Linked DNA regions of Homo sapiens. The protein of the gene in region 2 interacts with the protein of the main gene of each other region in a pairwise test. Each region holds a gene or a part of one and is shown on either strand. Other genes may lie near its edges.

The links.
Region 1: the proteins of EVI5 (region 2) and CEP19 interact in binary tests that used the Homo sapiens proteins (3 or more experiments, as listed by UniProt).
Region 3: the proteins of EVI5 (region 2) and ZNF446 interact in binary tests that used the Homo sapiens proteins (3 or more experiments, as listed by UniProt).
Region 4: the proteins of EVI5 (region 2) and TNFAIP8L1 interact in binary tests that used the Homo sapiens proteins (3 or more experiments, as listed by UniProt).

Annotation. Positions count from the first base shown.
Region 1 is NC_000003.12:196,704,964-196,710,002, reverse strand, and holds the end of CEP19 (centrosomal protein of 19 kDa), read left to right. Parts: intron 1-1,275; 5' UTR 1,276-1,345; coding exon 1,346-1,475; intron 1,476-2,090; coding exon 2,091-2,452; 3' UTR 2,453-3,726; downstream 3,727-5,039. UniProt on the Homo sapiens protein: Required for ciliation. Recruits the RABL2B GTPase to the ciliary base to initiate ciliation.
Region 2 is NC_000001.11:92,781,395-92,790,369, reverse strand, and holds the start of EVI5 (ecotropic viral integration site 5 protein homolog), read left to right. Parts: upstream 1-5,261; 5' UTR 5,262-5,534; exon of another isoform or gene 5,535-6,074; coding exon of another isoform or gene 6,075-6,116; intron 6,117-8,975. UniProt on the Homo sapiens protein: Functions as a regulator of cell cycle progression by stabilizing the FBXO5 protein and promoting cyclin-A accumulation during interphase. May play a role in cytokinesis.
Region 3 is NC_000019.10:58,471,114-58,480,332, forward strand, and holds the start of ZNF446 (zinc finger protein 446), read left to right. Parts: upstream 1-5,238; 5' UTR 5,239-5,391; intron 5,392-6,065; 5' UTR 6,066-6,105; coding exon 6,106-6,447; intron 6,448-6,523; coding exon 6,524-6,713; intron 6,714-6,973; coding exon 6,974-7,068; intron 7,069-8,529; coding exon 8,530-8,614; intron 8,615-8,816; coding exon 8,817-8,906; intron 8,907-9,062; coding exon 9,063-9,219. Other genes in the region: ZNF324 (zinc finger protein 324A), read left to right, coding at 1-1,041. UniProt on the Homo sapiens protein: May be involved in transcriptional regulation.
Region 4 is NC_000019.10:4,641,603-4,650,167, forward strand, and holds part of TNFAIP8L1 (tumor necrosis factor alpha-induced protein 8-like protein 1), read left to right. Parts: intron 1-8,565. UniProt on the Homo sapiens protein: Acts as a negative regulator of mTOR activity.

The DNA.
Region 1 (5,039 bases), on a different chromosome or scaffold from region 2:
TCTATAGGTTTCCCCTCTCCTTTGCCCCCAGTATTCTACAATGACGTGTATAATCACTGCTAAGTATTTAATAAAAAGTATGTTCCTAATAGTGATTCTCCAGCAGAACTGAGTTCACGAAGATATCATCACCCTATGCCACTTTACCTCAATGTTTCTTGACATTTACAAATCTTTCTGGGAATGTCACAGTCACATCAAAAGCAGTGCTTAGGGTTAAGTGTATTCTTTGGGCACTGAGGGTGGGGAAAGGAAGAGAGAATAGTAAGTATTCATCTACAAATAGCTGTTTCTTGTAGCTAGAAAATTATCATATAGTGAGACACACAGGCCAAAATAAAAGCCCTGCAGACATTACTGACTATTGTATATGAAGAAGCTGAGATATGTGATGTATATGATGTAGCTGCAGACGTTACTGACGTGTATATGAAGAAGCTGATTCTGCAGCAGGTCTGCTTTTTGATCAGGCTTCTAGACTGTAAATGCTTTCAAAAATGTACAGGGACCATCATGTTAATTCATAGCATTAAACAATGTATGGAATGCCCACTACGTTCCAGGTATTATGCTGAGATATTGTGGTGGAAAATGAATATGCCCCCCACCCTCATGGAGCATATTGACTAGAAGGGAAGATAGATGATTAAATAAATAATGACAAAAAACTCTAGTAAAATAATTGGGAAAGTACAAAGGAGACAGTTCTGGATTGGTGAACCTCTCAGGACAAAATGATTAAGGTTAAAAAACTTACCTTATCATAGTACCTTGATACCGAGGATGCTCGATATGCCCTTTCTTAATTGATAAATAGTAAAGACCCTATAGGTCAGCTATTGGGCTGACTTAGGGGTTCATATTCGATCTTCAGTAAGAGTGCAGTACACTAAGAGGTTCAAACTGGATTGCATCCCCAGATTCACATATGAACAAGTCTATATCCTTGAAAAAACCAGATCTTAGGGATCCAACAGGTTGAAACTAACCCAGGGCCAAGCTGAACTTTCAGGGCAGTTCTCAAAATAACTGAGCTTTGTGGTCGTTCCCGCGCACATACCCCACAATTGGAATGATACAGAGAGGATCAGCATGGCCCCTGCGCAAGGATGACACACAAATTCATGAAGCAGTCCGTATTTTAATTTTAAAAAAAATGAGTTTCACAGGCTGAGCGTGTGTGGCCAGAGCCGGACTAGAACCAGATCTTCTGGGGCAAAGGGGCGAGGGGAATGAATGACATTTATCCAACACCTAGTTGTTTTTTCCCTTTAGCAGGAAGTCATTATGCAACTTACACATATTCATCAGATTTCCTCTGACTTACCCGGACATGTACATGGGAATGATGTGCACTGCCAAGAAATGTGGGATTAGGTTTCAGCCTCCAGCTATTATCTTAATCTATGAGAGTGAAATCAAGGGGAAAATTCGCCAGCGCATTATGCCAGTTCGAAACTTTTCAAAGTTTTCAGGTACCTCATGTCTTATCTTGCCTCCTGTCTTAAATATTCTCTAAATACAGGTTCACATCATGACTCTGTCAGGGACTGGATGTGTGACACTGGATGAATTACTTACTCTCAGTGAGCTTCAGTTTCCTAATCTATAAAAGGGAATTGTAGTGTTTTTTTCCAATCTGATAATTAATAATCCTTTTGGGATTGCTGCCTAGGTTAAATGATATAGCATTATTCAATAATATTAATTCCCTTCTCTCATTCCAAATGTTTTTTATTTGTAGTCTTAATATTTTATTAATACCACTACTGCTATCTAAAAGCTATAATATCACTTTTCTTCTCAGACATATTCTCCAGTTGAAAGTGTTTAATATCTCTACAAAGTGATTTTTAAGTTAAAGAAGTCAAAACTGTATCTGTCCTTCTCCCACCACACTGAAAGCTCAATATAAAGGAATGGTTCTACAAAGTAATTCATTCCAATCAAGCCATTTAGCTACTTGACTATAATGGAGATAATATTTTCAGGGTTCAGAGTTTTTGTTCTGTTTTGGCTGTTGCAGTAGTTTATGGCGTATATGATGTACGTGGTACGTATGTGGTATATAGTTTTCTTCTCTCTCCCAGATTGCACCAGAGCTGCTGAACAATTAAAGAATAATCCGCGACACAAGAGTTACCTAGAACAAGTATCCCTGAGGCAGCTAGAGAAGCTATTCAGTTTTTTACGAGGTTACTTGTCGGGGCAGAGTCTGGCAGAAACAATGGAACAAATTCAACGGGAAACAACCATTGATCCTGAGGAAGACCTGAACAAACTAGATGACAAGGAGCTTGCCAAAAGAAAGAGCATCATGGATGAACTTTTTGAGAAAAATCAGAAGAAGAAGGATGATCCAAATTTTGTTTATGACATTGAGGTTGAATTTCCACAGGACGATCAACTGCAGTCCTGTGGCTGGGACACAGAGTCAGCTGATGAGTTCTGATACCAAACACTCAAAACATGCATTGGGCTAGCAGAATATCCATGTTTATTACCAGACTGGTTCTGGAAGAAGCTGTAAAGAATACTAAATATGTTGGGTTATAGGGGATTGACCATGTTACTTTTCAAAACCAGGACATTTAAAGCATCTACTATGTAGGTGCATGAGGAGTATGGGAAAAACAGAATAAAGGAATCTGCCTTTAAGGAGCTTACAATCATGCCGGGTGCGGTGGCTCACGCCTGTAATCCCAGCACTTTGGGAGGCTGAGGCGGGTGGATCACCTAAGGTCAGGAGTTCGAGACCAGCCTAGCCAACATGGTGAAACCTCGCCTCTACTAAAAATACAAAAATTAGCCAGGCGTGGTGGCGGGTGCCTGTAATCCCGGCTACTCAGGAGGCTGAGGCAGGAGATTCGCTTGAACCTGGGAGGCTGAGGTTGCAGTGAGCCGAGATCGCGCCATTGTACTCCAGCCTGGGCGATGAGCAAAACTCCATCTCAAAAAAAAAAAAAAAAAAAAGCTTACAATCTGACTGGAAGATGTCAAAACCTGTGAAAAGCTAATTAGCAGTATTAAGCAACACAAACATTAGTGCCAAATGCATGATAAAGGCTAAAGAAGGCCAGAGCATATATTACTGTAGAGTAGAATAGTAAGGGAAGACTTTGTCCTTTAGTAAAGAGATAGGAGGTGGCCTGGCCCTTGAAATAGTAGTGTTTAGGTAGATGCTTGTGTAGGATTCCTGATAAGAGCAACTGAAAAGAAGGAGAGGGGAAGTAGTAAAGGGACAAGAAACAATTTTTTTTTTGAGGAACCATAAGCAAATTATAGTTTGACAAGACAAGATTGGGGGACATATATGGTTACCAGGGAATTACCTCTTATGTGTTATATCTTTATATTATTTATCTCTGGAAAAGAGTACCCTGCAAAATTCCCTACAGCTGCAAGCAGATGTCACTTGATGGACAGAGGGGGAATTCTGCCCCTCCGGTATCGGGAAATACATACTAAAGACATTGCGAAACGCTGAACCTCTTCCCATAAATAAAAGGTTTGTTTGTAAAATGGGAAATCCACCCATAATAAATGAACAATAGGCACTGCCAGTTTAGGCCTGTTCATGAATGGATCTGCAAGACAGCATCTTCGTTTAACAACATTATCTGTGATTTGATACATTTATCCTTATTACAATATTGTTTAGTTGGTAGAAATTCTATGTTTTCTACAAGGAAATTGATGTTTATTAAATAAAACTGAAAATAATTACTCAGTGTTTCTACCTGTTCACTTCCACTCTCCTTACCATTAAGCACTTCATTAAAAGGGAGCTCATTCTTGTAGTGATATCACCAGAGTTTTGAAATAGTCAGATCTCATACATACAGTAGCCAAAGGGAGCCAAATAATTTTCTGAATTAGAGATCTTTCCATATCTACATAGTATTCCTTTATTCTTTATTGTATAGATATAGGTAGTTTATTTTTTATTTGAGACAGGGTCTCACTCTGTCACCCAGGCTGGAGTGCAGTGGCATGATCACAGCTCACCAAAGCCTCAACCTCCTGGGCTCAAGTGAGCCTCCCCTCTCAGCCTCCCAAGTAGCTGTGAGTACAGGTGCCCACCACCACACCTGGCTAATTTTTGTATTTTTTGTAGAGACAGGGTTTCACCATGTTGCCTAGGCTTGTCTGGAACTCCTGGGCTCAAGTGATCCACCCACCTCAGCCTACCAAAGTGCTAGGATTACAGATGTGAGCCACTGTGCCTGGCTATAGGTAACTTATTTTAAAATTTGTCCTTGGGTTGCTGGGCGCAGTGGCTCATGCCTGTAATCCCAGCACTTTGAGAGGCTGAGGCGGGCAGATCACGTGAGGTTGGGAGTTCAAGACCAGCCTGACCAACATGAAGAAACCCCGTCTCTACTAAAAATACAAAATTAGCCGGGTGTGGTGGTGCATGCCTGTAATCCCAGCTACTCCGGAGGCTGAGGCAGGAGAATCGCTTGAACCCGGGAGGTGGAGGTTGTGGTGAGCCGAGGTCATGCCATTATTGCACTCCAGCCTGGGCAACAAGAGTGAAACTCTGTCTCAAAAAAAAAAAAAAAAATTTATCCTTGGGTTGTTTTCTCCTTTCATGACTACAAACAGTGCTACAACAAATAACCTTGTACATTCTCTGTTTTGCACATATGCAAGGATATCTATTAGATAAATGCCTAAAGGGGAATTACTAAGTATGTGCATTCTAAGTTTTAATAGATACTAAGTTGTCACCAATAGACGTTCATTCATTCATTATTTGTAGTTAATAAGCACTTACTACATTCTAAGCCTGTACTGTTCTGGAGTTTGGGGTTACAGCAGTATATACAGCAAAGTCCTGGGTTTACAGTTGGAGAGCAGAGACATAAATGCATAGAATAGTGTCATCAGATGGTAAGTGCTCAAAATGGGATGAAAAGGAGAATGATAGAGGGGATGGGAGCCACTGTTTTAGATCACATGATGAGCAAAGGCCTGAAGGAGGCAAGGAAAAATTGGTATGCATTTCAGGATTAGCGGGGAAAGGTAAGTGTATT
Region 2 (8,975 bases):
TTGAGCACTTGAACTATGTGAGTGTGACTATGAAACTGAACTTTTAAGTTTATTTATTTTTGAGACAGGGCCCCACTCTGGCACACAGGCTGGAGTGCAGGGGTGTGATCTTAACTCACTGCAACCTCCACCTCTTGGGCTCAAGTGACCCTCCCACTTCAGTCTCCAGAATAGCTACAGTTGTGCCAACATACCTAGCTAATTTTTTTATTTTTATTTTTGTACAGATAGGGTCTGACTATGTTGCTCAGGCTGGCCTCAAACTCTTGGCCTCAAGTGATCCTCCTGTCTTGGCCTCCCAAAGTGCTGGGATTACAGGCATGAGCCACCATGCCTGGCTTAATTTAAGTTTAAATGTAAATAGTCACATGTTGCTAGTATCTCTAGTGGTTGCTGTATTGGACAGTGCAAACCTAGAATGTAACTGAGATGGTCTAGTTCTCTAAAAAGCTCCCAGGGTGAGGGAGGAATATTGTTCACAGTGGGTTTGACTTCTCTGGTGAGTTCCTTCTTTGTACCTTGGGTTGTTTTTTGCCTTTCAGAGGACTGTCTCCCTTGCATTTCCTTTCTGTGAACAATGGAGCTAACATGACTGACTTAAACACCTTTGGCAGTTTAGAGCACGGTGTTCCAGGGTTTAACCCTTGCCAAGTTTAGAGGGGTTCCCCTCCCAGACAGTGACCCAAATCAATGCTAAGGCTGTACAGTATCAGAACATAGAAAACTTTGAATTGCTCACTGAATTTACCGCAAATAAAACTATCTGAAGGCCAGGCGCGGTGGTTCATGCCTGTAATCTCAGCACTTTGGGAGGCTGAGGTGGGCGGATCACAAGGTCAGGAGATTGAGACCGTCCTGGCTAACATGGTGAAACCCCGTTTCTACTAAAAATACAAAAAATTAGCCAGGTGTGGTGGCAGGCGCCTGTAGTCCCAGCTGCTCGGGAGGCTGAGGCAGGAGAATGGCGTGAACCCAGGAGGCAGAGCTTGCAGTGAGTCAAGATCTTGCCACTGCACTCCAGCCTGGGCGACGGAGCGAGAAAAAAAAAAGAAGAAGAAGCTGAGGCAGGAGGATGGCTTGAATTCAGGAGTCCAAGTCCAGCCTGAGCAACATAGTGAGACCCAGTCTTTTAAATTAATAAAATAAAATGAAACCACAAACCTCAAACAAACAAAAAGACAAAACAGGATTTCAATCATTGTGAAGCTCTCGATCTAGTAGATGAGTAATGTATATAAACCAAAATATTACAATTTCAGAGAAGTGCTACAGGGCCTAATGTTTAACCACTTCTGGCATTCAACTGACTGTGTTAAAAACTCTGCCACCACTTTCCAGGGGTATAAATTGAGGTAAGTTATTTGGTATTTATTAAATTTCAGCTTCTTCATATGCAAGGGGGTTATGATAATAATACCTACCCCATGAGGACAATATGAGGATTAAACGAAATAGTGTATGTATACAGCCTTAGCCAATACCCATACATGTTGAGTGCTCAACCAGGTGTTAGCTATTAGATTTTAAAATTTTATTTAATTTTTATGGGGTTTTTTTTGTTGTTGTTGTTGCTGTTGAGACAGAGTCTTGCTCTGTTGCCCAGGCTGGAGAGCAGTGGCGCGATCTCGGCTCACTGCAAGCTCCACCTCTTGGGTTCAAGCAGTTCTCCTGCCTCAGCCTCCCGAGCAGCTGGGACTACAGGCACACACCACCACGCCCAGCTAATTTCTGTATTTTTAGTAGAGATGGGGTTTCACCATGTTGGCCAGGTTGGTCTTGAACTCCCGACCTTGTGATCCACCACCTCGGCCTCCCAAAGTGCTGGGATTACAGGCATGAGCCATCATGTCCTGCCTAGTTTTTTTTTTGTTTTGTTTTGTTTTGTTTTGTTTTTGAGATGGAGTCTCTCACTCTGTCACCTAGGCTGGAGTGCAATGGTGCAATCTCGGCTCACTGCAACCTCCGCCCCCCGGGTTCAAGTGATTCTCCTGTCTCAGTCTCCCGAGTAGCTGAGATTACAGGCACACGCCACCATGCCCGGCTAATTTTTTTTTTGTATTTCAGTAGAGATGGGGTTTCACTGTGTTGTCCAGGCTGGTCTTGAACTCTTCCGCTCGGGCAATCCACCCACCTTGGCCTCCCAAAGTGCTAGGATTACAGGTGTGAGCCACTACGCCCGGCCACTATTTTTTATAGTTTTTAAGGTAAAATTTACATTCACTGAAATGTTACCTGCATATTTTTTGATAAGTGAATATACCTATGTAACTCACATCCCTATCAAGATAGAGACCATTTTTACCACCCAGAAATTTCACTCATGTACCATCCCAGTCAATCCCCTGCCACAGGGAACCACTGTTATGATTTTTTTTCACCACAGATTAATTTTCTTTTCTAGAATTTCAAATAAATGGAACAGTATGACACTCTTTTGTGTCATTTATTTATCTTCACATAGATAATTCACATACTTTGTGTCATTTATCTTCACATAGATAATTCACATACTTTAAGATAAAAAAGGTACAATTTTAAACCTTTTGGGCATGCAGTAAAAATCTCCTTCCCACTGGTACCCACCAGTCACCCAGTCTTCCTCTCTCTTTCTCTCTCTTTTTTTTTTTTTTGAGACAAGATCTTTCTCTGTCGCCCAGGCTGGAGTGCAGTGGCACGATCATGGCTCACTTCGGCCTCACCCTTCCAGGCTCAAGCAATCCTCCTGCCTCAGGCTCCCAAGTAGCAGGACTACAGGTGCCTACCACCACACCTGTCTAAATTTTTTTTTGTATTTTTTTTTTGTAAAGATAGGGTTTTGCCATATTGCTCAGGCTAGTCTTAAACTCCTGATCTTAAATGATCCGCCGGCCTCAGCCTTCCAAAGTGTTTAGATTATAGGCGTGAGCCACCGTGCTTGGCTCAGTCTTCCTCTCTTGAAGCAATCAATGTTATTAGTTTTATGTGGGCCATCCCATGTCTTATCATTATTAATTCAGGTGCTTACAAAAGGCTCTTTGAGAACTGTTTTAAAGGTTACCCAAAGAATCTTGTGACAACCCAGCTAAAATGATATAAAATCAGTTTTAACATAACTGAAGTTTTTAGATTCTGATTCCAAATGTCAGATGGTGACATTTTACCTTTCTCTGACTTTATGCCAAATTTAGTTTAAGTTTTAGCATCTATAATTTTCATTTACTGAACAAATATATATTTAACAAATATGAAAATACAACCATGAAACAAACAAAATCAAATCCTGGACTTAAGGAGCTAATAGTAAAAAATTCACCAATATAACTACCCAATTACAGTTTCATGCGATGTGAAAGGAGTAAGAGACCACCATAGGGAGGTCAGAAGATGCTTCTCAGAGGTGGATACTAGAGCCGTTGTCAAAGGATGAGGACTGGGAGAACTTTCTGGGCACAGAGCAAAGCATGAGTAAAAGCTCTGTTGAGGCCAGGAAGCCGGTAAATAGGGAATAAAAGAGGCTAGCGTGGCTGGAGCACAGACAGCAGGGTGGAATTGGTCTGAGCAGTGAGAAGAGGTGGAGAGGTGGGCAAGGCACCTGGCCATTCAGGGCTTGGTTAGTTAGGAGGGTTTTTTCTAAGAGAATGGGAAAGTGTTTAAGTGGTTTAGGCTGGGAAGTGACAGGGTCACACTGTTATTTTGAAAAAGTCACTCTGCCTGTTGTGTTGAGATTAGAGAGGGGATAAAGGGAATATGGGTAAACCACAAGAAGACTAGGTCAGTAATCCCTCCACCCCCACTCCCCAGGTGAAGGTAGCCTAGACTAGGGTGGTGATGGAGGAAATAGGAGAGGACAGATTCAAGGACCATTTGTAAGGGAAAAACCAATAGAATTTGCTGACGGATGGAATATAAGAGGGGAGAGGTACATTATCAAGGATGTAGCTTAGTTTTCTTATACAAGGATTGAGTTGCAATAAAATTGTTAATTGAAATTTCTTTAAATAATGGCACAACCTAAAGTTATGCAAACATATGCCTCAGATAAAAGTTCAAGTTTTCAAAGTTTTTAGCTGGGTGGAGGGCATGGCTTTACTTCCTATTTCTTGGTATTTCCTAATCTTGTTGAAAAAAAAGTAAGGTTTTTTTTTTTTTTTTTTTCTGAAATGCTTAGTTCAGTGGAAACCCATCTGCGAATTCTGTCTTATAAATTTAAATTTAAAAATAGGGATACTAATTTCTAGACAAATAATTCCGGAGTTTCTTGTGCTGCTAATTATTATAATTTTTGTCCCTTTTTTTTTTTGAGACAGAGTATCGTTCTGTCGCCCAGGCTGGAGTGCAGTGGCGCGATCTTGGCTCACTGCAACCTCCACCTCCGTGGTTCAAGCAATTCCCCTGCCTCAGCCTCCAGAGTAGCTTGGCTGGGAGTACAGGCGCACGCCACGACGCCGGGCTATTTTTTTTTTTTGTATTTTTAGTAGAGACGGGGTTTCACCATGTTGGCCAGATTGGTCTCCAACTCCTGACCTCAGGCAATCCGCCCGCCTCGGCCTCCCAAAGTGTTGGGATTACAGGTGTGAGCCACCGCGCCCGGCTGTCACTTCTAAACATATAATGAAAGTAATCTGTATTGCCTTTTTACTTTTTCTTGCCTGCTTTTCCTGGACCAGAAATTAATAGGCTGTTTCCGTCCCAAACAAAGTACTTTCCTTCTAAGAATGTCTTCGTTGACGCTGGAGGGCTGCCCGGCTGAATCTTACGTATTCGTGCCCATGTTCTGCCCCCTGCAGTAGTCTGCATAAACCCAATGCGAAGACACGTGTAAGAGTACATTACAATTACAAGTGTCATTTACGCGTTGATTATTGTTTTTGCGAGTGCCCTAAGGCCACCTCTGGGGGAGCTCGGGGCTGCCTTCCGAAGCATGCGCGTCAGCACCGCGTGCCAGGGCCCTGAAAGTCAGGCTCCGCGTCGGTGCGGCAGCGCGAGGCCTGCAGTCCTAAGCTCGGGGTCGCTTCGGGCCCCCGAGGGGGTGTGTCTTCTACCGTTTTAACATGGAAGGGGCGGTTCCAGTGGCCGGGGAAGTCGGCGACTTGCAGGACTGAAGGCTGGTGCTTTGAAAGAGAGGCGGAGGGCGAGAGCGATTTCCCCGCCTCCTCTGCACTCCGTCCAATCCCTTCGCCTTCTCCTTTTCTCGGCCGGCCCGCCCGGCCCCTAACCTGCTCCAACCCATTCTGCGGTAGAGGCTGCCGGGTCTCTTTAAGGCCCTCCCGCGCCTGCGCCTTGGGCTCTCCTGACGCGGCCGGGCCGGACCCCGGAGGAACCAGCTGGCCAGCTGGCAAGGGGCTGGCTGCAGTTCCGACAGCGGCGGTGCCGGGAGGGGTAGGTGAGGGTCGCGAGGCGGCCCTGAGCTTCTGAGTGAGCGTGGTGCTTTTGGGAACTCGGGACGGGCGACCCGTGGAGCCAGGAGCGGGGCCGAGGCGCTGAGACGCGGCGGCGCGGCTGCCGGCTGGATGGGAAGTTAATGTTTACGGCGAAGTCTACTCAACGTTTCCAAGGTGAGGGGCGCTGCGCCAGGCCGGGCGGGCCGGGAGGCCGGGCGGGCGGTGAGTCCGTGTTCCGCTGGCGCACAGCTGGGCCGAGGCGCGGCGGGCGGGGGCCGCCGCAAGTTTTGCTGTGGGAGCGGGGCGGGCGCGCCTGGCCCCGCCAGGGCCTAAGTTCCCTGCACTCGCTTCCTCGCCTGTCGCCGCCGCCGCCGCCCGCAGCCCTCCTTCTCGTGGGCGCTGGGGAAGAAACTCGTCGGCGGGTCTAACTGTGGCGTCCCAGGGCGGTGGAGGGACGGAGCAGCTTCGGGGGCACGTCCTCGTAAATCCCGTGGAGGACACTGACCCTGCACCCCACCCTCGAGGCCAGAAGTCGGTTCCCTTTGGGGACCTGAGGGGCGAGAGCACTCGCCCCCCTGACTTGCAAAGTTGGCGTCTTTACTTGGCCTCCGGGATTCTGCGCATGGCGTGTCTCCAGGCTGCTGATGGGCAAGACAGATGTGCCAGGTCCAGAATGAACTTGAGAAGAGTTTGTAGCCATTCCTGAATCACCTTATGACTAGTGGGGCAAGCCTCAAATTAACCTCAGGATTTCCGGTAGGTTGGATTGTGGTGTTGGTGTTTCCACTCAAAAGAGTTGCTGTGATTTCCCTGTGTCTGTCTGTCTGTCTGTCTTTGGGGCTTCTTAGATCATCTCATTTGGCATCCTTTCACCCAAGAGTTAAACCAAGCCTTTTGGAATGGTTTCCTCGCTTTCCTCCTATCTATTGCTGGTAGAGCTGCTTTCGAAAAGAAGTATTTTCTTGAAGTGGTATCTTTTCTTTGGGTTACAGTGTTGAATAATAAACTCCTTTCTTTGCCGAAAGAATGAATTCCAGTGCTTACTGAAGTTAAAGAAAAGTGATCTGCTGGTAGTTTTTAATCTTTGTTCTGAGCTGATGTAAGTAACTTTTTTTGTTTTAAAATTTTGTTAGTAGAATTTCACCAGTGTACCAGAAGCTCTTTTTCTTTTTCTTTTCTTTTCTTTTTTTTTTTTTTTTTTGACAGGGAGTCTCGCTCTGTCGCCAGACTGGAGTGCAGTGGCGACGTTGGTTCACTGCAACCTCCACCTCCTGCGTTTAAGCAATTCTCCTGCCTCAGCCCCGCGAGTAGCTGGGACTACAGGCGCGCGCCACCACTCCCAGCTAATTTTTGTATTTTTAGTAGAGATGAGGTTTCACCATGTTGGCCACGATGGTCTTGATCTCTTGACCTCGTGTTCCACCCGCCTCAGCCTCCCAAAGTGTTGGGGTTACAGGCGTGAGCCACCGTGCCCGGCCTTCTTTTTCTTTTCTTTTCTTTTCTTTTTTTTTTTTTTTTTTTTTTTTAAGGCTGAGTCTCACTCTGTTGCCTAGGCTGGATATATTCTCCTGCCTCAGCCTCCCGAGTAGCTGGGATTACAGGCGTACATCACCACGCCCGGCTAATTTTTTTTTTTTTGTATTTTTAGTAGAAACGGGGTTTCACCGTGTTGGTCAGGCTGGTCTCGAACTCCTGACCTCAAATGATCTGCCCGCCTCGGCCTTCGAAAGTGCTGGGATTACAGGCGTGAGCCAGCGCACCTGGCCCAGGTGGTCTTTTTTCTGTTCTAAAATGATAACTACGATTTCCGAGAACTTTGTGTCAAATAAATCTTAGAACTAAGTTATTGAAGTATAGAGAAAAAGTTCACAATTCTAAATGTGCAGGTGGTCTGGGTGCGGTGGCTCACGCATGTGATCCTAGCATTTTGGGAGGCAGAGGCAGGTGGATCACTTGAGCCCAGGAGTTTGAGACCAGCCAGGGCAACGTGGCAAAACCCCATTTTCTACTAAAAATACAAAAATTAGCTGGGTGTGGTTGTGTGCGCTGGTAGTCCGAGCTACCCAGGAGGCTGAGGTGGGAGGATCACCAAAGCCGGGGAGGTCGAAGTTGCAGTGAGCCTTGATCATGCCACTGCACTCCAGCCTGAGCGGCAGAGTGAGACCGTCTTTCAAAAAAAACAAAAACAAAAAACATCGCAGGTAATGAATTTTTACTAAGTGAACCACCAAAGATCAAGAAATAGGACATTACTAGATTGGAGTATGTACGTAGGAGTGGCATTGTTGGTTTTATAGGTACGTGGGTGATAAAACTCTAGTATTAGAAATTGTTGAACATTTTCCCAAAGTGGTTCTACCAATTAGCAGGGAATGTTCCGGTTACCCCACATCCTTGCTGGTGCTTGTCAGTTGAAATTTTTTTTGCTAGTCTAGTAGAGGTACAGTAATATATCAGTGTGGTTTCATTTTGCATTTTCCTGGTACTGAGGTTGAGTATCTTTTGTTGACCATTTATATTTCCTCTTGTGAAGTGCCTGTTAAGTCTTTTTGCCCAGTTTTCGTTGATATGCTTATTTTTCTCTCATTTATAATGCTTTATTCTGGATATGAGTCCTTTCTAGGATATATATGTATTGCATTTTTATTTTTTTCAGTCTGTATTTTGCCTTTTCAGTCTTTTAATGGTGTTTTTTTTCATGCCTGGAGATTCTTAATTTGTGTGTGTGTGTGTTTTTTGTTTGTTTGTTTTGTAAGATGGAGTCTCACTCTGTTGCCAGGCTAGAGTGCAGTGGCGCGATCTCGGCTCACTGCACCCTCGCCTCCCGGGTTCAAGCAATTCTCCTGCCTCAGCCTACTGAGTAGCTGGGACTATAGGTGTGTGCCACCATGCCCGGCTAATTTTTGTATTTTTAGTAGAGACAGGGCTTCACCATGTTGGCCAGGGTGGTCTTGATTTCTTGACCTCATGATCCATCCACCTCGGCCTCCTAAAGTGCTGGGATTACAGGTGTGAGCCACCGTGCCTGGCCTTTTTTTTTTTTTTTTTTTTTTTTGAGACAGAATCTCACTCTGTTGCCCAGGTTGGAGTGCAGTGGCACGATCACGGCTCACTGCAATCTTGATCTCCCAAGACTCAGGTATTCCTCCTGCCTTAACCCCCAAGTAGCTGGAACTACAGATGAGCACCACCATGCCCAGCTAATTTTTGTATCTTTAGTGGAAATGGGGTTTTGCCATGTTGCATAGGCTGGTCTCGAACTCCTGGGCTCAAGTCATACACCTACACCAGCCTCAGCCTCCCAAAGTGTTGTGATTACAGGCATGAACCACTGCACCCAGCCTGAGATTCTTAATTTTAATGAAGTATACTTTATCAATCTTGTCCTTTATGGTTACTGCTTTTTGTGTCCTATTTAAGAAATCAATGCCTAACCTGAGAATATGAACATATTTTTCTGTGTTGTCTTATAGCAATTTTATTTTACTTTTTGCAAAAAAAATTTTTTTTTTTTTCAGACAGGGTCTGAAGTGCAGTGGTGCAGTCTCAGAACACTGCAACCTCCGCCTCCTGTGCTCAAGCATTCCTCCCACCTCAGCCTCCTGAGTAGCTGTG
Region 3 (9,219 bases), on a different chromosome or scaffold from region 2:
GGGAGCGCCCAGGACCTGGAGGCTGCCGGCGGTCGGGGACATCACCGAATGGGTGCAGTTTGGCAGGAGCCTCATAGACTCCTCGGTGGCCAGGAGCCCTCGACCTGGGACGAGCTGGGCGAGGCTCTTCACGCTGGGGAGAAGTCCTTCGAATGCAGGGCGTGCAGCAAAGTGTTCGTGAAGAGCTCCGACCTCCTCAAGCACCTACGCACCCACACCGGGGAGCGGCCCTACGAGTGCGCCCAGTGCGGCAAGGCCTTCAGCCAGACGTCGCACTTGACGCAGCACCAGCGCATCCACAGCGGCGAGACGCCCTACGCGTGCCCCGTGTGCGGCAAGGCCTTCCGGCATAGCTCCTCGCTGGTGCGGCACCAGCGCATCCACACGGCCGAGAAGTCCTTCCGCTGCTCCGAGTGCGGCAAGGCCTTCAGCCACGGCTCCAACCTCAGCCAGCACCGCAAGATCCACGCGGGTGGGCGTCCTTATGCTTGCGCACAGTGTGGCCGCCGCTTCTGCCGCAACTCGCACCTGATCCAGCACGAGCGTACGCACACAGGCGAGAAGCCCTTCGTGTGCGCGCTCTGCGGTGCTGCCTTCAGCCAGGGCTCCTCGCTCTTTAAGCACCAGCGCGTGCACACAGGCGAGAAGCCCTTCGCCTGCCCACAGTGCGGCCGCGCCTTTAGCCACAGCTCCAACCTCACCCAGCACCAGCTCCTGCACACGGGCGAGCGGCCCTTCCGCTGCGTGGACTGTGGCAAGGCCTTCGCCAAGGGCGCCGTGCTGCTCAGCCACCGGCGCATTCACACGGGCGAGAAGCCCTTCGTGTGTACGCAGTGTGGCCGCGCCTTCCGTGAGCGCCCGGCCCTCTTCCACCACCAGAGGATCCATACCGGCGAGAAGACCGTCCGGCGATCCAGGGCCAGCCTGCACCCCCAGGCCAGGTCTGTTGCCGGGGCATCATCAGAAGGTGCGCCAGCGAAGGAAACCGAGCCCACTCCCGCCTCGGGCCCAGCCGCCGTCTCGCAGCCAGCGGAGGTCTGAGGTCACAGGTTGCAGCCCTGGCCTTCTGTGAATCCCTTCCACAGCTAAAGGGCATATGTCCTCTGCAGATCCACAGCAGAGAAAAAGTCCCGTGCTTGCTAGTCAGGGACAAGGGAGGCCCTTTGGCTGTGATTTCATTTGCACGTGGGGACAGGATTTGCCAGTTCACCCACAGATCACACCTCCATCCCCAAAGAGGTAGCACTGCAGCAACATCAGGGGGAGGACGTGGTGGCTGAACTCTAGTGGGGCCGAGACTATTCAGAGCCAGTAGGAGGCCGACAGTCACAGCACTGCACTGTGGTGCGGCTTCATGTGATATGACAGTGGATGCTAAGGTGAGAGGGATGCAGGCATGGGTTGGGGGTGGCCCAGAGAAACTTATGACAGCTGTACACAAACTGGCCGCTGGAGAGATGCCCGCTGAGGGTATTCTCCCCTCAACCCACTGCCTCTGTTCATCCAAGACTTCCTAGGGGCCAGCCTAGCAGACAAGAGACCACAAGGGACTGGGGATCAGGGTCTGGGCTCTGTCAGCCGCCACCTCTGGGAAAGAGAAAAGGTTTGGGTCCACTGAACATCATGTTTGTAGACGCTGACAGGTGGGGTCCTAATGAGAGCCAACACATGCTCACTGCCAGCTCCTGTCCTGAGTACTGGGAAGTTTCTCCTGAAGCCCTGTGAGATGGCTCTGTGGCTGGTATCCCGACTTGGAAGATGAGGAAACTGAGGCACACGGCCTGGCCTGGCTTCACACACATAGCCGACTCAGGAGAGGGATGCCCATGGGGGAACATGTGACTCTCAGCATTGGAAGGACAGAGCTAGGATGATGGCTTTCCGGTGGCACTCGTTCAGGTTTTTGCCCAAGTCTCAGCTTGGCCAAGGCCTGTCACTGACTGGTTTACCAAAGTCGATGTGAGGAGGAGGCTTTATACCTGAGGGGATGATGTTAACTTCAGACAAGATGGAGCTGCTCACTTTTGCCGGGTTTGGTGGCCACTTCACCCCCAACCCTGTCTCACCCCCATTATCCCTCCTCAATTGGAGGCTGGACAGAGCTGAATAGGAAAGACTTGCTATTGCCTAAGGCTATGTGTGACACCCTCCTGAGGACCTCCCCACCCCAGTGTAATGGCCCTTCATGGCAGGGACAGAAAGGTGGACTGGGGGCCATTTGCTTCCTGTGGCCTTCAGCAGACCAGGCCCTGTCCCTACCTGGAGCCTCACCTCCAAGGAAATTCATGTTCTCCTTAATGGAAAAAAAAAAAAAAAGACTACCATCTGCAACTCAGAGTAGGTGTTGCAGTTTCCTGTACAGCAGTTTGGACCTCCAGAGCACAGCCTCTTGTCCCTACTCCAGAGCATGGTTCAGTCTTAATAGCAGTTCAAGAGCTTCTCTGATAAAGGTTTCTTTTTAAACATTTGTGTGAACGGTAGCAACCTGACACCTATTTCACCCTCATACAATGCAGATGGTATTGAACATACCCTGACATGCCATCAGCGTTTGTCATCATCACAGAAGTTCCTGGACTTGGCTTCAACCTGGGTACCCTCAAGAGGCCACAGAGTAGAGATACAGCCTGTCTGCAGCCCAGGGAGGGAGTGGGATACCTGTATCCTTTTCAGGGTCAGAGGTGGGTTGGGGTAGCCAGGAGCTGGATGAACTGGGATAGAGTGGGGCTGTCTGGAGCAGCAGCCCTGCTAGATGAGTCCTGGTGGATCCTGGCAATGGGAGGATGGTAGGTGGAGAAACCAAGGCAGGGCTGTGTTCCTTCTGCTGCTGAGATAGAGGGTGTGGCCATGTGTGATGACCCTGCAAGGTTGACTCCAACCAGTGGGCACTCCATCCCATGGCTTCCAAAATCCTGCAGCTATCCTGCCCTATACACAAAGAGCCCAGATCCAGGCCCCACACACTTGATATTGGGGCCAGACTCTTCCACCTGTGAAACCTCACAGGTTCCTGCAGGGAGTGGAGACACACAGAACCTAGCTCCCCTGGAGCCTGCAAGACTTGGGCCACCAGAATCCCAGTAGGTCCCTGAACCATTGTCCCCCAGTAAGTCTGCAGAGCTGTGAAATGCAGACAATAACCCTTCCCTGCCTGAAAGAGCACTTTTCTGGGGAGCCCATGGGAGTCAGGAGCAAAAGCATCTGTCAAACAAGTAGATACCCAGAGAGTCACGTGAAATCATTTCTATGCCTCTGACAGACGCTTCTTGAGCGAAGTTTCTGCCCTGAGCCCGCCTGACCCCTTAGGCTGGGCTCAGTACCCTACCTTGTCTTCCCACCAGCCGCCTCCCTCCATCAAGTTCCTTTCCACGTCTGCTTGTGCCCCTGTTGTCCCTCAGTTTGTCCACCCTCCTCCAATCTTCCCCTCCCCAAACCCATGACTGATCAGTGGCCCCCAACCTAGGCTCCCACCTCCATGCAGGTCTTGGCCCCTCGGCTGACCTCCCTCCAACCTCCCCCTCTGCTCTTAATTTTGAATAGGTAGTGACTGTAAAAGTATCCCTGGGCTTCTATGTCAAAAGGTCAGACTGAACACATGCATCTCACTGGGCTCAGAAATCCACTGAAACCACAGAGGGGAGTATTTAAAACACATAACCCACAAGTATGAGGATGGTGACAGAGGAGTCAGGAGCAATGGCATTCCTAAGCTAGAAGTGGGTGAGAGCTGTCACTAAGTTAGGGAAGGCAAAATACTACGTGGCGACTTGGCGAAGAGGAGAGAGTTCCCACCAGGCTGACTCCAGAACCGCAGAAGGCTGAGAACCAGCAGCCCAGAGACGGGAGACCTATATCAAAGCTGCCTGGGGAACAACTACTGAAGAAGCCCTTAACGCCCCAGTGCTCTCCCCACATGGTGGAGGGTGAAAGTTTTTGTTTTTTTTTCCTTCTGGGACTCTGCATAGTCCCAGAGAAAAGGCCTAAGCACCTCATCCCCAAAAACAACCTGAGGAGGCCGTTGGAAAGCTCCGAGTTGACAAGTCTCATCCACGCACATGCTCGGTGCTTCCAATCGGTGATCAAGACCACTGCTCTTCATCCAGAGCAGGCAGCAGGGATTCCCAGGTATCCAAAGAAACCAAAACAGGCGGTGTAATTTAGGACTGACTAAGTAATGGCTCGGCCACTTTTAAGTGTGGAAGCAAAACTGACCCCACAGATTTAGAAAACTGTAACACTGCTTATTGGGAGAAACTAGTGTCACCCTGGCTAGTTCTGCTCCCCAAATTCAAAGGTAAATAAACGGTTGAGCATGTCCGATCAGCCTGGAGGGAAACCTCCACCCCCGACTTTGTAGGACTGACATCTGAAGACGTCAGAGACTGCGGTCACAACCGTCGGTACCTCCTTAGGGCGCTTAACAGAGGTCAAAGATGGCCCTCGCACCCTCCTGGCGGGAGAAAGCCCAGGCTCAGGGTGGTCTTCTACACCACCGCCTCTCCCGGGTCCACTTGGAAGCGAGTCCCAGCGAACTACTCGACCTAGGAAACCACTGGGCCGCCACTTCCAGCCTCTTCGGAAGTCGAGGCAACGCTCCTGAACGTTGCCACGGGAACAGCTGGAGGCGGGCGGATATGCCCTAGCGTTATCTAGGGGCTGGCCCGGGGAATGGCGTGGGGGCGGCGGGGCCAAGCAAGCGCCACCTCTGATTGGGCAAAACCCCCTCCCCTCACCTGCCAATAGAAACCGGCCCACTGTACAGACGCGCAAGTTTATAACCCGGGAAGAGCTGCTCTCAGAGCGGAGGGAGACCATATAACCCTGGGACTCTGCCGTACCTCCTAGAGGAACAGAGCGCCTCTCAGGCGTCAGAGGCTGCTGCAAATGCGGGTCAGCGGGTCACGGTCGCGCCTGTCTTGCTGATGCTCATGGGAAATGTAGTTCAAAGGGCATGGGCGGTGCCTTCGGTGCAGGCGAGAGATTGGTCAGCGCGGCGTCGCCGGGGCAACACCCGGCTGAGGCGCCCCGCGTTGTGCGGCGCCACATCCGGGAAGCGGCCTCCAAGCAACCGCTCCGGGTTGAGGTGAGCGCAGGCTGCCAGAGTGGGCGCAGCCTTTCCACCCCGTGGGAGGGCTTGGGGTCGCCCTCTGGGGCCTGAACGGCTCCTGCTGTCGGCGCCCTGGAGGGCCCGCCCACTTCCCGACAGGCCGCGCGCGTCACCTCAGCCTTCGCTCAGGCCTTTCCTACCCTCAACGCCGTTCCGGGGGGCCGGGCCTGGCAAGTCCTCTTGGAACGCCTCCCTCTTGCCTTCCCCTTTTGGGGACAGATCCCGAAGTTCGAGCATCCCTCGGATAGGCCGGGTGTCAGGCCTGGTCTCTCAGGCCCGTCCAGGTGGGCGTCTTTCACTGCAGACCTTCAGGGCCGGGATGCTGTGGCCATCCCTCGACTCCGCGCAACGTGGAGCTTTGGCCCCGTTTTTCTTGGCCTTTGCTTTTCGTTTTCACATGCACGGGCCCCGGCAGTGTGAGTCGCCCACGGCTCGCTGTGGTCAGCGAGCACGATGTCCACGTGCCCCCTCCCCAGAGCCATTCCTAAAGGAGGTCCCACCCAGTCAACCTCCCCGAGATTGTGGAGGGCGACTCGTCCCCGTACATTACAGCCTGGCCCCACCTTCTACCCGCCCACCCTGGTCCACTCTCCTCGCACCTCGGCTAGACACTGTGGCTCCTCAGCCTGGCGCTGGAACTCTGTGATGACTGTCTTTCTCCACCTCTTTAGCGTCATCTCCCAGCAGTCCCCTGCTGGACCCAACTGTTTGCAATTTCCAGGAAGCTCCCTGGACACCTTGCGTCCAAGCATTTGTCCCTGAGGCTTCCTCCTGCTCTCATTTGCCATCATTGTTTGGGTCCTGTGACCCTCCTCCTTCCATGAAGCTTTCTTGGCCTTATCTCTTCTGGCCTCAGAGTACACTTGGTCCTGGTCTCAGCCCCCTGGGCTGAGCCTGGTGTCTGCCTTCCCCTGGCCAGATTCTCTTGGCTGACATTCCGACCCTTCCTTTTCTGTAGGCCCATCTTGACGATTCCAAGACCACCCCCTTGAGCAAGAATGCCATCCCCTCTGGGTCCCCCATGCCTGCCCGTCATGGACCCAGAGACCACCCTTGAGGAGCCTGAGACTGCCCGCCTCCGCTTCCGAGGGTTCTGCTACCAGGAGGTGGCAGGTCCCCGAGAAGCCCTGGCCCGGCTGCGTGAGCTGTGTTGCCAGTGGCTGCAGCCTGAGGCACACTCCAAGGAGCAGATGCTGGAGATGCTGGTGCTGGAGCAGTTCCTGGGCACACTGCCTCCCGAGATCCAGGCCTGGGTGCGCGGTCAGCGGCCAGGCAGTCCTGAGGAGGCCGCTGCCCTAGTCGAAGGACTGCAGCATGACCCTGGGCAACTGTTGGGCTGGGTGAGTGTGGCTGGCATCAGCTTCTTGGAGGGATAGACCCTGGCTAGAGCCATTGTGACCTACCTCTTCTCCTCAGATCACAGCCCATGTCCTGAAGCAGGAGGTGCTCCCTGCAGCCCAGAAGACAGAGGAACCACTTGGGAGCCCCCACCCCTCAGGGACAGTGGAGTCCCCTGGGGAAGGTCCCCAGGACACCAGAATAGAGGGGTCTGTCCAGCTCAGCTGCAGTGTGAAGGAGGAGCCCAATGTCGATGGACAGGAAGTGGGTGAGGTTGGGGTCCCACCAGAGATGAGGGACTCCTGGAGGAAGTGTGGACATTCCTGGCTAGGGTGGGAGTCCCAGGAGAGGTGTGTCAAGGCTGGGACTCCTGAAGTGAATGTGGATGTCCCTGTCTGGGATGGGGACCTGGGAGGCAGGAGCCAAGGGCTGGCTACGTGCCATGTCACACAGCAGAGGAGCTCCTCATCTGCCATGGCTCATGTGGGCAGCCCCTGACACCACCCTTCCATCTGCCCCACTTTTCAGCACCCTCCAGCCCTCCACTTGCAGCACAGTCCCCTGAGGGGAACCATGGACACCAAGAACCAGCCTCCACATCCTTCCACCCACCCAGGATTCAGGTGAGCAGCCCCAAGTGGGAAGTATAGGCCCCAGGTGTGAGAAGGGACTGTCCCCATGGCTGCCCTCTGCCTGGTGGTTTTCCAGGCTCCTTGACTAGTGGCTCTTTGCTTCCCAGAAGTGGAGTCTGTAAAAGCTGTACCCCTCCACAGGACCTGGGGCAGAGGGACAGACTGGTGATCTATTATTGAAAAGGATTTGGGGCTGGACATGGTGGCTTACACCTGTAATCCTAGCACTTTGGGAGGCTGAGGTGAGCGGATCACCTGAGGTCAGGAGCTCGAGACCAGCCTGACCAATGTGGTGAAACCCTGTATCTACTAAAGATACAAAAATTAGCCAGAAGTGGTGGCAGGCGCCTGTAATCCCAGCTACTAGGGAGGGTGAGGCAGGACAATTGCTTGAACCCAGGAGGCAGAGGATGCAGTGAGCCGAGATTGTGCCACTGCGCTCCAGCCTGGTCAACAAGAGCAAAATTGTGTGTCAAAAACAAAAAAAAAAAAAAGGATTTGGGCCTCAAGCCATGGAAACCCAGTTTAGAGTGGCTGGAACTAGTGGGCTTGGCTTCCTCACCTCCAGAGAAGTCAGCTGGGAGGTTTGCTGCTCCCAGAGGTCCTGAGCCAGACCTGGGGATTTGAACTTTTGTGTGTAGCTGGGGAGGGGAGAAGATGACCAGCTGTGGCAGGACTCCCCCCACACCTGAGACCAGATGGAGACACTCTCCCTGGGAAATGCCCGAAGTCCCTTCTCTCCTAGGGGTTTCTTCAGAGGCCACCTGTTAGGCCTGGAAGCTCAGCTTGAGGCCTCTTCTACCTGGATCGCTTGGTTCCCAAGTGTGGGTAGCAAGGTCTTTTCCTCTCCCGGCTCCTCTAACAACTCCACTGGGGAGCTTCAGCAGCAACATTGCTGGTTGAGATGTGTTTCGAGGCTAAGAAGTCCTTCCAGGCTCCCTCCACAGCCCCATGGCACAGTCAGAAAGTGAGGCAGGGTGGGTAGGCTGCACTTCCCAGTGTCCTCACCTCCAGCCAGCACCATCTCTAGCTGTGGCTCCTCACAGCTGCCGCCTTCCTGCCCCTGGACTTGCCACAGCTTGTCCCTCAGGATTATTTTTCCCAACCCAGCAAAGCCCCAGATGATGGGACTCAGGCAGCAAGGAGGGCTGACCCCCAATCAGGGAGTTCATTCCTCGATAAAGTCACTCAGGTCCCTGTGATGCTGCCAAACCTGCCCTCTGAGCAGGATGGTGTAGTAGAGGGGGATGAGTGCTGGCAGCAGCACTGGTCAGGTGATCTGAAGGAGAACCTCTGCACTTAACAAACACACACCTTGAGATCATTCTCAGCAGGAGGGGCAGATGAGGCGTAGGTAACCTGCTGACTCTTCCGGGTAATAGGTAAGAATGTGAACCAGACAGGGCAGGGAAGGGGTGGAAAGACGCCTACAGTGATGGGCCACATCCGCAGGAGGAGTGGGGGCTGCTGGACCGGTCACAGAAGGAACTGTACTGGGATGCGATGCTGGAGAAGTACGGCACAGTGGTCTCCCTGGGTGAGGACCAGCCAGCCCCACCCCGCCCCTCTCCCTGGGGCCTGCACCCACCCTGCAGCAGGCCTAGCTGGGCAGGGCCTCTGTGCTACCAGCCCTACCCAGCTCTCCCACCTTCCAGAGGAACACCCTGTCACCTACCAGAACCGACCCCACCCCTCCTTCATGCAAACCCCATGCCTAACTGTGCCCCCCACCCGGGCAGGGTTACCGCCCCACCAGCCAGAGGCACAGGCCCAGTCAGAGCTGGGGATGCTGCTCACGGGGACAGGCGTCTGCAGAAGCCTGCGCTCGGGTGAGTGCCCCACACCATCCAGCCTGAATCACCCCTCCTGTATCGGTGGGACCTGAGCCACCCACTCATGGGGGGACGGGAGCTTGTGCCACGGCCACAAGCCTGAGGGAGGGGTTGCTGAGTGCCGGGACTCACCTGGTTTGCCCCTGCCCCCAGGAAATGAGAGTGAGGGTCCACCTGGCTGCCCAGAGGCCCAGCCGCCCCAGGGCCCAGGGCCGGCAGCCTGGGAGGGCTTGTCTGGGGCTGCCACTCCTGCCCCCACTGTGCGCCCAGGGACACCGCCAGTGCCCACTCAGCCCACACCTGCAGAGAC
Region 4 (8,565 bases), on a different chromosome or scaffold from region 2:
CTGTCCAATGGGGCTGGTCATCTCCTTTTTCTTGTGGGGCTGAGATAACTGTGGGGAGGGAGGGTGCTTTGAGGGGTGGGGGAGATTCAACAAGATATTGTTAAAAGCCCGAGGAGGGGATTACAGGACACAGTACTTCTAGAAGCTTCCTAAGGCTTCGATCCTTCCCCTCTGGGGTGGGCTCTGGGAGAGACGAGACTTGAACCCCAAATGTGCCATTGACTAGGATGAGGAAAGGATTGCACTAGGTTAAAGGCTGGGTTCAAATTCTGATTCTGCCACATCACTGCTTTATAAACAGGCAAGCTCCTGACCCTCTGTGACTCAGTTTCCTTATAACCAAAAACTTGCAGGTCCATCTAGAGAATTTCCCAGCCTGGGCAACATGGTGAAACCCTGTCTCTACTTAAAACAAAGAAAAAAAAATTAGCCAGGTGTGGTGTCGCAGGCCTGTAGTCCCAGCCACTCTGGAGGCTGAGGTGGGAGGATCACCTGAGCCCAGGGAGGTTGAGGCTGCAGTGAGCCGAGCTCATGCCACTGCACTTCAGCCTGGGCGACAGGAGTGAAACCCTGTCTCAAAGAAAAAGAAGAGAATTGGCTGGGCGCCGTGGCTCACGCCTGTAATCCCAGCACTTTGGGAGGCTGAGGTGGCCGGATCACCTGAGGTCAGGAATTCGAGACCAGCCTGGCCAAGAGGGCAAAACCCTGTCTCTACTAAAAATACAAAAATGAGGCGGGCGTGGTGGTGGGTGCCTGTAATCCAGCTACTCAGGAGGCTGAGGCAGGAGAAACACTTAAACCCAAGAGGCAGAGGTTGCAGTGAGCCGAGATTGCACCACTGCTCTCCAGCCTGGGTTGACAGAGTGTGAGACTCCATCTCAAAAAAAAAAAAAAAATTAAAAATATACACATAAAATAAATAAAATAGATGGGGGATCTGGGAGGGCTTCCTGAGGAGGGGCCATGTAAACCCAGACCTGGATGACAAGAAGGAAACAGCCATGTGGAGACCTGGGAGAAGAGCAGCTCAGGCAGAGGGCACAGGTTGTGTAAAGGCCCTGGGGCAAGATGGCGCCTGGCATGGTAGAGGAGCAGCAAGGAGGCCCGTGGGGCTGGAGCAGTGAGGAGGAGGAGAGAGGGAGGAGGGGAGGGCAGGGAGGGGACAGGGCAGGGTGCGCAGGATCTTATGGGCTGCCAGGAATACTTGGCTTTGACCCCAAGGGAGGTGGGAGCCATGGAGGGTGGTGGGCAGGGGAAGGATGGAACCTGACTCAGGTACTCACAGGCACCCATTGGCTGCTACAGGGAGGACAGACGGGGGGCATGGGGATAGATGGTGCTGAGGGACGAGGGGACCAGGATGGAGGCTGTGGGGGAGATAAGAAGTGGGTTGCGTTAGGCCAGGCAGGGTGGCTCATGTAATCCCAGCACTTTGGGAGGCTGAGGCAAGTGGATCACCTGAGGTCAGGAGTTGGAGACCAGCCTGACCAACATGGTGAAACCCCATCTCTACTAAAAATACAAAAATTACCCAGGCATGGTGGCACGTGTCTGTAATACCAGCTACTCAGGAAGCTGAGGCAGGAGAATCACCTGAACCCAGGAGGCGGAGGTTGCAGTGAGCCGAGATCACGCCGCTGCACTCCAGCCTGGGCAACAGAGTGAGACTCTGTCTCAAAAAAAAAAAAAAAGTGGGTTGCATTGGGACACATTTAGGGGCTGGATGCACCTCCTGCCAGGTGATCCTAGGCTTCTCTGCACTCTAATAATTTATTGCTTGGGCTGAGGCAAGCCTGTCCCCTCCTCTGCAGAGTCATGGGCTGTGGGTAGCTGATAATTCATGTTTGGCCCTCGAACCCTTTCTCCAGTGGAAATCTGGCCACAGTGGAAAGTGTCCAGGCTCCCCGCCACAACCCAGCAGGCAGCTGGCCCCTGCCCATCCATGGGGTGGTCCTGAGGGTGCTGGGGAACCCAGTTTGAGAACAACTGATGTCACCCCCAACTTGGGCCAACAGATTCCCCTCTCTCTTTTGCCATAACTAAAATGGACACTGGCGAAGTATGGCGGCTCATGCCTGTAATCCTAGCATTCTGGGAGGCCGAAGCAGGAGGATCGCTTGAGCCCAGGAGGAGACCAGCCTGGCCAACATGGCAAAACCCCATCTCTACTAAAAATACAAAACTTAGCCAGGCATGGTGGCAGGTGCCTGTAATCCCAGCTATTTGGGAGGCTGAGGCAGGAGAATTGCTTGAACTGGAGAGGTGGAGGTTGCAGTGGGCTGAGATCGCGCAACAGAGCGAGACTCCATCTCAAAAAATAAATAAATAATAAAATTGGCCGTTCACGGTGGCTTATGCCTGTAATCCCAGCACTTTGGGTGGCCGAGGCGGGTGGATCACCTGAGGTCAGGAATTCGAGACCAGCCTGACCAACATGGAGAAAACCCCGTCTCTACTAAAAATACAAAATTAACCGGGCGTGGTGGCGCATGCCTGTAATCCCAGCTACTTGGGAGGCTGAGGCAGGAGAATCACTTGAACCCAGGAGGCAGAGGTTGCAGTGAGCTGAGATCATGCCATTGCACTCCAGCCTGGGCAACAAGAGTGAAACTCCGTCTCAAAAAAATAAAATAAAAATAAAATAAAATGGACACTGGCCAAGTGTGGCAGCTCACGCCTGCAATCCCAGCACTTTGGGAGGTCAAGGCGGGAGGATCACTTGAGCCCAGGAGTTCGAGACTAGCCTGGGCAACATAGCAAGACGCCATGTCTACCAAAAAAAAAAAAAAAAAATTAACCAGGCATGGTGGCACATACCTGTAGTCCCAGCTACTCAGGAGGCTGAGGTGGGAGGATCACTTGAGCCCAGGAGGTCGAGGCTATAGTGAGCTATAATGGTACCACTGCACTCCAGCCTGGGCAACAGAGTAAGACCTTGTCTTAAAAAAAAAATGAATAAATAAAAATAAAATGGACACCGGCTTGCAAGTCCTGAGTCATGGATTTTTTTTTTTTTTTTTTTTTTTTTGAGATAGAGTCTCACTCTGTTTCTCAGGCTGGAATGAAGTGGAGCTCACTGCAACCTCTGCCCCCCAGGTTCATGCGAGTCTCGTGACGCAGCCTCCCGAGTAGCTGGGATTACAGGCGTGTGCCACACACGGCTAATTTTTGTATTTTTAGTAGAGATGGGGTTTCACCATGTTGGCCAGGCTGGTCTTGGACTCCCGACCTAAGGTGATCTGCCCGCCTCGACCTCCCAAAGTGCTGGGATTACAGGCATGAGCCACCACGCCCAGCCTGTGAGTCATGGGTCTTAAAGGGCTTGGTGCAGTGGGACCCTGGGAGTCGGTGGGATGAGGCCTGGGATCACTGGCCTCGGCGGGAAGAGGCCTGAGGCCCCCCCTGGGCCCCCGGACTGAGTGCAGCCGGGGCTGAGACAAGACAGATGGAGCGGCTGGCGTGCACCTGCAGAGCAGATCCATCAATTATTGACACTCTGTGAGGTGCATGAAGAATTCATGGGACAGGGGTGGGGACGGCAGGGACTTGTGACATAATTGCAGCCAGCTCACCAGAGCCACCTCCTGTGTTTTCAGGAATTTTGCCATCTGGTAGTTAAACGCAGCCATTATTTAACGTGGGAGAATATAAACTTATAGTTAAGGCTGGGCGTGGTGGCTCCCACCTGTAATCCCAGCAGTTTGGGAGGCCGAGGCGAGTAGATCACTTGAGGCCGGGAGTTAGAGACCAGCCTGGCCGACATGGCCAAACCCCGTCTCTACTAAAAATACACAAATTTGTATTTTTGTACAAATACAAATACACCAGCTGGGTGTGGTGGCATGCACCTGTAGTCCTAGCTACTTGGGAGGCTGAGGCTGAGGCAGGAGAATCGCTTGAATCCGGGAGGCAGAGGTTGCAGTGAGCTGAGATTTGGCCACTGCACTCCAGCCTGGGAGACAGAGCAAGACTCCATCTCAAAATACATACAAACATACATACATACATAAACTTATAGTTAAATAAAGTACATTTAAGCCAGGGGTGGTAGCTCACACCTGTAGTCCCAGCACTTTGGGAGGCTGAGGCAGGAGGATCCGTCTCAAAAAAAAAAAAAAAAAGGAATATAGGGAGCAGGGGAAGAGTCAAGGGAGCCAGGGAGTTGGTGCCTGGTCACCCATTTTGCAGATGGGAAAGCTGCCCCCATGCATGGGGCCTGCCAAGGGTCACAGCAGGGAGACCTCAGAGCTGTGGACGGACCTGGACAGAGGCTGTGGACAGGGCTGAGGCCTCCTGGCTGTTCCTGTAACAAGCGTGACACAGCCCTGCCCCAGGGCCTTTGCACAGGCTGTGCCCTTTGCCTGGAGCATCTTCCCGCAGACCCTGTCATTGCAGGCCCAGTTCAACTGGCCCAGCCTCTCCCTAGAGAGGCCCTCCTGGTTACCCTGAACTTCATCCCCCACCCCCGTGGCCCATATCTCTCTTCCTGAAATTAACTTGTTTGTTTCTATTTATTGGTTACCGGCACCTCCTCCTTCCAGCAGGGGAACAGTTTTTGCACCCAGGCTGGAGTGCAGTGGAACAATCTCGACTCCCTGCAACCTCCGCCTCCCAGGTTCAAGCGGTTCTCCTGCCTCAGTCTCCCGAGTAGCTGGAATTACAGGTGCTCGCCACCACGCCCGGCCGACTTTTTTTTTTTTTTTCAGTTGAGTCCGGGTCTCACTATGTTGGCCAGGCTAGTCTTGAACTCCTGGCCTCAATTGATCCTCCTCCCTCTGCCTCCCAAACTGCTGGGATTACAGTTATGAGCCACCGCACCTGGCCAATCATTGTTTTAAAGTGTACAATTTATAACCAGAAAGTTATGTGACCATCATAAATTTCTGGAATCTCTAATTCCAGAACATTCCATTACCACTCACCCCAAAAAAACCTGGTTCCCAATTTAGCAATCGCTTTCCATTTTCCCCTCTTCCAGTTTCCAGCACCCGCGAGTCCGCTTTCTGCCCTTGTGGACAGGCCTCTCCTGAACATTTTTTTTTTTTTGAGATGGAGTCTCGCTCTGTCACCCAGGCTGGAGTACAGTGACGTGATCTTGGCTCACTGCAAGCTCCGCCTCCCGGGTTCACGCCATTCTCCTGCCTCAGCCTCCCGAGTAGCCAGGATTACAGGTGCCCGCCACCGCGCCCCGCTAATTTTTTGTATTTTTAGTAGAGACGGGGTTTCACCGTGTTAGCCAGGATGGTCTCGATCTCCTGACCTTGTGATCCGCCCGCCTCGGCCTCCCAAAGTGCTGGGATTGCAGGCGTGAGCCGGTGCCCGGCCCTTCCTGAACATTTCATAGAAGTGGGATCACACACTTTGTGGCCTTGTGTGTCTGGCTTCTGTCACTGGGAATGATGTCCTCAAGGTGCATCCACGCTGGAGCTTGTGTGTGAGCCTCGTTCCTTTTATGGCTAGAGAACATTCCATTGTTTGGACCGATCTCATTTTGTTTATTCATTCACCCATTAATGGACATACGGACATTTGAGTTGCTTCCACTTGCAGGCTACCCTGGGTCACGCCGCTGTAAACTGTGACGTGCAAAACAAGTGTTTGCGTGGTGTATGCTTGTGTTTCTCTTGGGTAGATCCCCCAAAGTGGAATTGCTGGGTCCTATGGTAACTGTGTGTTTAGATGTCTGAGGAGCCGTCGGACTGGGTTTTTTTGTTTTGTTTTTTGTTTTTTGTGACGGAGTCTCGCTCTATCACCCAGGCTGGAGACCTCGGCTCACTGTCACTGCAACCTCCACCTCCCGGGTTCAAATGATCCTCCTGCCTCAGCCTCCAGAGTAGCTGGGATTACAGGTGCCTGCCACCATGCCCAGCTAATTTTTTTTGTATTTTTAGTAGAGATAAGGTTTCACCATGTTGGCCAGGCTGATCTCAACTCTTCACCTCAGGTGATCTGCCCACCTCAGCTTCCCAAAGTGCTGGGATTACAGGTGTGAGTCAGTGCACCTGGCTTTTTTTTTTTTTTTTTTTTTTTTCCTTTTGAGACAGGGTTTTGCTCTGTTGCTCAGGCTGGAGTGCAGTGGTGTGATCATAGCTCACTGCAGCCTTGACCTCGTGGGCTCAAGCGATTCTCCCCCTCTCAGCCTCCCGAGTACCTGGGACCACAGACCCGTGCCACCATGCCTGGCTAATTAAAAAAAATTTTTTTTTGTAGAGATGGGATCTCGCTATGTTGCCCAGGCTGGTCTTGAACTTCCCAGTTCAAGCAATCCTCCTGCCTTGGCCTCTTAAAGTGTTGGGATTACAGGTGTGAGCCACCTTGCCTGGCCCAGATGATTTTGTAATGAGGAGGCAGCTTGGGGTCTAGAAAGCCAGGGCCTTAGCAAGGCAGGGATGGGATCTGTTTTGATGCCTGCTGTATCCCCAGTGCCTCTGTGGTCTCTTCTGCAAAGCAGGCAACCTGGCCAGTACCAGGTGGGAATGACGAATAGGCACAGGTCGCTGGCTCAGGACACTGGGGTTTGGTTACAAGCTTCTGCCCCAGGACAGCTGGTGCTCCATAAATGCTCGTTGAGCCACTGAATGGGTGTTAACACCTGAATCCCAGAAGCTGTAGCAGGCTGTGTGTGTTTGTGACGATGGCAGGGTGCCCTGGCATTTGGAGGGCGATGCCCCTAGGCCCCAGGCAGTCCCTAGGAAGGCCCCTGCCCTGTAAGGGCTGATGCGGCCGCTACACCGCCTCCTGCAGGAAGGAAGACCCAGGTTTATTTTGGTCCTCGGCCTGTTCCCCTGGGAGAGCAGTCATCCTCCTGTCTGGCTGCCTGGATGGGAGCGTTTCTGGCAGAACAATGGGTCAGGGAGGAGGAAGGGGAAGGCCAGGCAGCTGGGCCGCCCCAGGTGTCAGCAGGTCCCGGGGCTGCCCCGGCCGTCTTAGGAGTGTGGGGGCCAGGAAGGGAGGCCACAGCTGCTTGCCCCCCATCCCTCTTCCTGTTGGCCTTGCAGGGGGCGGGGGTTGCTCTTGGGAGCCCAGGCCCTTCCTGAATCTGTAAACAGGCCTGACTCCCGTCCGGAATCAACTTCTTCAGCCTCAGGACTCACAGATGGGAAAGTCAAGGCCCAGCGAGGGGCACAGCCCTGCCTGGGGTCACGGAGCTCCCGAGATGGGCAGAAAGATGTGGGCTCCAGGGCCGATGGGGTCCAGGGGCCTCATCCCCAGATGCAGAGAAAGGCCTTTTCCTCTTCGAGTCCCCTCGGTTTATTCATCTATGAACTGGGGAGGCTGGACCCAGGGGTTCGGGAGTTTCCTCTTAGAATCTGCAAACATCCTTTTTTTTTTTTTTTTTTTTTTGAGATTGAGTTTTGCTCTTGTTGCCCAGGCTGGAGTCCAGTGGTGTGATCTCAGCTGACTGCAACCTACGCCTCCTGGGTTCGAGCGATTCTCCTGTCTCAGCCCCCAAAGTAGCTGGGACTACAGGCGCCCACCACCATGCCCAGCTAATTTTTGTATTTTTAGTAGAGACGGGGTTTCACCATGTTGCCCAGGCTGGACTCGAACTCCTGACCTCAAGTGATCCTCCCGCCTTGGCTTCCGAAAGTGCTGGGATTACAGGTGTGAGCCACCGCGCCCGGCCAGCTTTTTTTTTTTTGCACAGGGAATCTCACTGAGATAGAACTAGGTCTGCAAGTTCACAGAGCTGAGGTGGGCACGGAAGGGCGGAATTCCAGGCAGTGGTTGCAGCCTCTCGTCCAGAGGAAGCTCACAGCTTAGGGGGCATTGCGGTTTGGTCACAAGCTTCTGCCCCAGGACAAAGTTCGTTCCGATCTTCCCCATATTTCAGATGGGGAAACTGAGGCACATTGTTAAGTTGCTTGCTGCAGAGGCCAGAGCTGGGAGCAGGCCCTAAATATCAGGGTTGCCCTCTAAGACTCACGGCCAGTTGAGGGCGTTAGGTGGGGAAGGCACAGGGAGTTGGGGTTCAAGGGCGTTGAGAGCCAGTGGTTACTGTATTGCTGTGTGGTCTTGGGGAAGTGGCTCAGCCTCTCTGAGCCTTTGTGGTCTCTTCTGCAAAACAGGCAACCTGCCTAGTACATGGTGGCGATGACAAAGTGGGCACACATCGCTGACTCAGGGTCTGCCACGTGGCACTGAGTCAACAGCACCCCTCTTCTGGCCTAGGCCTGTGCAGAGCCAGGGTCTGGTGACCGAGGTCGGAGGGCAGGGGCGGCCCATCCAGCAATTCCCGTGCCTGCCCTGACCTCAGAGGGCGGCCGAGGGTTTGGAACTTCTCCCGGAGTCTGAACTCACACAAAGACCGGCTTTGTGGGGGCTCCTGGGGTAGGTGGGTGCCCACATGGCATTCCAAGGCTGGCAGCCTGGCGCTGGGGTGGGAGTGGAGGCTGAGCAGGGTCTGGGGCAGTGAGAGAGACCGGGGGCGGGTCTCAGGCCCTCCCTCCTCCGCCAGTTCTTCCACACTCCCCTCTTCATTCAGCAGATGTTTCTGGAGTCTGCAGGGACACCGTGGATAAGGAATTGGGCCCATGACCTCCCCTGTGGCCTGGGGTGAGGCAG